Regions from separate parts of the Homo sapiens genome. Here region 2 is linked to region 1. A link means that fine-mapping ties the variant in region 1 to the expression of a gene that starts in the linked region. Tissue or cell type: monocytes. Region 1 holds a variant in brackets; the other region holds the start of a gene. All regions are shown on one strand. Distances are from middle to middle.

The links. PIP is the estimated chance that this variant, and not a neighbour inherited with it, causes the effect.
Region 2: it holds the start of TBRG4, and the variant in region 1 is fine-mapped to the expression of TBRG4 in monocytes (CEDAR, PIP 0.95).

The regions. Positions count from the first base shown.
Region 1 is chr7:45,879,640-45,882,322 of GRCh38, reverse strand. It overlaps a transcript of CCDC201 not described here. Among named protein-coding and RNA genes, the nearest start is that of IGFBP1, 7.5 kb to the left of the region's middle. The variant G/A (reference allele first, on the strand shown) is at 1,547.
Region 2 is chr7:45,110,037-45,112,719 of GRCh38, reverse strand. It overlaps TBRG4 (transforming growth factor beta regulator 4), which reads left to right and starts at 1,023. Exons shown (of 11, transcript NM_004749.4): 1 at 1,023-1,077. RefSeq lists enhancers at 496-1,251, 615-1,324.

The DNA.
Region 1 (2,683 bases):
GAGCAGCACGGTGGCTCGTTCCTGCCAACGGCAGAGGCTGGGACCTCTGGGGTGGTGCAGTCACACGGGTGCTTCCATCATCTGCTCTTCCCAATCCTGCCTTCGTGCAGTGTGCTGCTTACTCACCAGCAGCTGAAAATTGGGCAATCCATGCTCTGAAAAACAATACAAGAGTCAAGGGCAAAGTCAAACTTTCAAAGGGAAGAAATGCTGCAATCCAGGGACACCTCAGAAAGGAAGTTGTTTTTAACACGGGGAAAAAAAACAAAGTGATGTTTTGCTTATGTTCCATGATCAACACAGGGGATGATGTAAATCTGTGCAAAGGCCCGACGTGCTGCCCTTATCTCCCAAGCTGATGAAGGACACTGCTTGGCAAACTGATGGGAAAGTTTGAAAAAATAGCTCTCGCCCACACTCCCCACTAATCAAAGTGGAAAAGTCACCTAGCTCTTGTCACGTCAACAAAACCCAGTTTCTAAACACAGGAGGAGCACAGATGTGTCCAGGCCAAAGCCCAAGGGACCCTGTCAGAAGACCAGGGTCTGAATCTCAGTGTTGGCGATGGAAGCGAGGCCATCCCGAAGCATTTGCATTCAGGGTGCAGTGGGTTGGGTGAAAGAGGGCAGGTATCAAGTGCCAAACATAGGGCAGGTGCTCTTCGTCTTCATTCTGTTATGCTCTCCCCGCATCAAGGCTGCTCAGGTGACAGACCCCTCCTAATTTCTCACCTCTGGTAAAGGGGGGTGGGTTAGACCACGGTCACTCACTAATTGGCATTTCTACCTAGATGAGTAGAAAGGCCCATCCCCAGGCCCTACACCAACCCCAGACTCCGGCCTCTGGGGGCGCATCCCACACTCTGTTACTAGGCAAGCCGCCTAGGAGAATCTGTTGCATGCTCAAGTCTGAGGCCATGGGTTCACAAAGCACTTCTGGGCCCGCACTTGCACAAAACCACTCCATAAGAAGTGAGAGATTAGGGTAATGGACACATTTGAGGGAAGAAACAAAGAGGCAGAGCTATCATTGCTGCAGCTGGGTGGTGAGAGGGCCTGGGTGGTGGAGGGAAATGAGGACGAGCCACCAGGACACCAGAGCTCCCTGTTGCTCACTCCCAGGAGACACATGCATCTCATTCCCCCAAGAATCTTCGCCACCCATATAAAAACTAAGATGATTTGGTAGAAGATGACACTTACCCGGACCATGCATGGGCTTCAGGAAAGTCACGACTGTACTACGTTAGATGTGGTGTTGTTTGATTAACCCTGAATTCACTAGATGGTGGGAAGTGTCCATCACTTTGGTGAGGTGAAAATTCCCATACCAGTTTGGCCCCGTGAACTCATGCCATGACCCCCATGGGGATTCTGTCAGCAAGAAACCTCAATGTGCTTGTGAGGCCATCAGTCCAACACAAACACCAGGGCTGCCACTCACCCAGCCCATAATAGGTCACCCCACAGGGGCAGCAGGACCTCTCCCACCCCAGGATGGAGCTGTCAAATTACTGTCCTCAGGTCCCCAGGCCCTTGCTGCACTC[G/A]CTACACACACTGAGTTGGAGCAAAGCCTGCCAATTACAACACGGCGGCAAGCACTAAGGACAGGTGACCCTGGCTCTGCAGGACTTTGCGACATGGCCAGGCAGCAATGACCCTGAGGTAAAAAGAGTGGGAGTCTCATTCCCCAAGTCACAGTGTGCCCATCACGTGGGGTACCATCACCTGCATATAACGTGCCCATCACATGGGGTGCTGTCACCTGCATACAGTGTGCCCATCACCTGGGGTGCCATCACCAGCATACAGTGTGCCCATCACCTGGCAGGCCATCACCTGCATACAGTGTGCCCATCACCTGGGGTGCCATCACCCGCATATGGTGTGCATATCACACAGGGTGCCATCACTGGAGTTACCGTATGAGGATCATGTGTTTATGAAAACCACAGCATGTTACTTTTGGGGGACTTGGACTGTGGTTTGTTTCCAACTTTTCTTCATTACAAATAATGCTGCAATCATTTTAATCTTTCCTTTCCTTTCCTAATGATATTTTCTCAGGATAAAATTCCAAGTTTAAAATAATAAAATAATAAAAAATAACTCCTCTTCATCTCAATTTAAACAGCCAACAACAATGTATGAGAGTATAAGTTTCACTTCAATATCAGCAGTATTATATGTTGACGTTATCATGTTTGCAGATTCAGTAACTTTATTTTTTTGTGTGTGAAGACAGAGTCTCACTCTGTCACCCGGGCTGGAGTGCAGTGGTGCAATCTCAACTCACTGCAAACTCCATCCCCCAGATTCAAGTGATTCTCCTGCCTCAGCCTCCCGAGTAGCTGGGATTACAGGCACCCACCACCATGCCTGGCTAATTTTTGTATTTTTAATAGAGATGGGGTTTCACCATGTTGGCCAGGCTGGTCTCAAACTCCTGACCTCAAGTGATCTGCCTACCTCAGCCTCCCAAAATGTTGGACTTACAGGCATGAGCCACTGTGCCCAGCCAGATACAGTAATTTTAAAGCAATACTGTGTTAGGTTATTTTGCACTTAGTTGATTATTAATGAAGTTTATAGTTGATATGGTTTGGCTCTGTGTCCCCACCCAAATCTCATGTCAAATTATAATTCCCACTGTTGGAGGAGGGGCCTGGTGCGATGTGATTGGA
Region 2 (2,683 bases), 770 kb after region 1:
TCAACCTCCCTTTCCAGAATGGCTGGGAACTCAGTTTTTAAGGTTTCTCTGGGGTCTCCTTGGCTAAGAGGAGGTCCGTTCAGTGCTTGGGGGGCTTACAATTTTATTTTTAGTTTACAAACACAAACAAACGTAATTATTTATTTTTATGTTTTTTGTTTTGTTTTTTGCGACAGAGTCTTGCTCTGTCAACCAGGCTGAGTGCAGTGGCAAGATCGCTGCTCACTGCAACCTCCACCTCCCGGATTCAAGCGATTCTCATGCCTCAGCCTCCCTAGTAGCTGGGACTACAGGTGCGCCCTACCACGCCCGGCTAATTTTTTTGTATTTTTAGTAGAGACGGGGTTTCGCCATGTTGGCCAAGCTGGTCTCGAACTCCTGAACTCAAGTGATCCGCCCACCGAGGCCTGGGATTACAGGCGTGAGCCACCGTGCGTAGCCAAGTAATTATTAACTCCACAGAAAATAAAAGGCTGTGCAGGAAGTAAAAATTAATCAAGTCCATATATAGACCTCAGATACATTTCGTTTGGGCTATCCTGCACTTTACTTTGTAATTAAACACCACTATTTAAAAATCAGGAAAATTGCACATAAAAATCCAGCTGCAAGTGGGCGCTCTGGAGTTCCCCAGTCTCCACTCACTCGTCCTCCCAGCCCCCACAGGCCTCAACGTCGCCTATCCCACTCCACCAGCCCAGTCTTCCACCGCCCTAGGAACTCTCCTACGCCTACGCAAGCAGGGAGGGATAGGGTGACAGCACCGACAACAAAGGGTCGTCTCCCGCACTCCGTATGAGGATGGCGTACTGGTCGGGGGGCAACCGAAGCCTTTCTTCCTAGGTTCTTTATCTTTTCTAAGTTTCCCATGACCTATCGCTCCGCTTGAGCCCTCAGCAAAGATGTCACCCGCCGAAAGGTGTGGCCGGAAGCTGGAGGCGTGGCTTCCGGACGTGCGGGGCGAGGCTCGTCTCGTTTCCGCCGGCGCTCCGAGTGACGTAGGGAAGCGCGCCGCGCACCTCATGGTTCCGGGGACAGTTAGGGCGGCGGATGGAGGTCAGCGGTGGTGCTCGCTGCGTAGGTCTTGTGGCACGGGGAGAAGGGGCGGCTGATCGTGGGTTTCGAGTGCACAACACAGGCGTGGCTGGGAAGGTCCTGGGATGCGGTGGAACTGGGGAGCAGGCTGGGACGCGGTGGGATGCCGTGGGCCTGGCCGTCTGCTCGTTCCGTGCTGGCTTGCCAGTGCGCACGCTTCCTCTCTAGCCCGCGCGGCCAGGCCTGGAAGACGCCGCCCCTGTTGACCGTCCATGACCCCAGCGAGCCAGTTTTCGTGACTTAGTGCAAGTTGTTTTCTCTCTGCATTTTAGAACTAAAGTTTTGGATTGCTGTTTGCCTAAACTCAAGTCTGGCTCCTGGGCTTCCGTTTACTCGGCTAAACTGCTCTTAGGGCTCTTAAAAAATTGGAAAGGCGGCCGGGCGCGGTGGCTCACTCCGGTAATCCCAGCACTTTGGGAGGCCGAGACGGGTGGATCACTTGAGGTCATGGTGAAACCCTGTCTCTACTAAAAATACAAAAATTAGCCAGGTGTGGTGGCGCGGGCCTGTAGTCCCAGCTATTTGGGAGGCTGAGGCAGGAGAATCGCTTGAATCCGGGAGGCTGAGGTTGCAGTGACTCGAGATCGCAGCATTGCACTCCAGTCTGGGCGACAGAGCGAGACTCCGTCTCAAAAAAATAAGTCGGAAAGATTTCTACACTGTGCTTAGGCTCAGGAAGTGGTAGATGTTGCGTTTGGGCAAATACTCCGACTCTCTGATCTCTCTCTCTTTTTTTTTTTCTTTAAGTGGAGTTAGACTAAGCTTTTTACAGCTGCTTTAATCCCCTCATATAAAAAGAAAATGTGCTGGCCATATACCAAGTTCCAGGAAGTGGAGAAAGATCAAACGTACATTCTGCTTTGGCAGAAATGAGGCCTAGGTGAACGTTTTATCTTGCCCTTGTCGCATGTCTTCCCTGGATCATGTAATCACCGTAGGGAGCTAGACTAGCTGATAGAATTTTTTTTCTTTTTTTTTTTTTTTGTGACAGAGTCTCGCTCTGCCACCCAGGCTGGAGTGCAGTGGCGCGATCTCGGCTCACTTCAAGCTCTGCCTCACCCTCCCTAGTAGCTGGGACTACAGGTGCCCGCCACCACGCCCGGCTAATTTTTTTGTATTTTTAGTAGAGACGGTGTTTCACCGTGTTAGCCAGGATGGTCTCGATCTCCTGACCTCGTGATCTGCCCGCCTCAGCCTCCCAAAGTACTGGGATTACAGGCGTGAGCCACTGCGCCTGGCCGATAGAATTGTTAAAAGCAACATCAAGGCTATATGTAACACATTGCTGGAGATGGCAACATTGAGTTTGGCCTTGGAAGGATGAGATGTATTTTAAAGGGTCTTATAGGGGGAGGAGGAGACCCAGATAACAAGCCCTGTAAGGTGAAGTGGAAGTGCAAGGCCTGTTTAAAATGGGGCCTTGTGTTGCTGGGAGGCAGAAAAAGCTAAGACTGAGAAAATCATTCTGGGCCATGTTATGAAGTGCTTCTTATTATTGGTTCAGAATTTTTGCTGTTAGAAATTTGGTGGGGGGGTTTTAGTAGGCTAGTGATGTAATCTACCTTGGTTTCGAGAGGCTCACACCTAT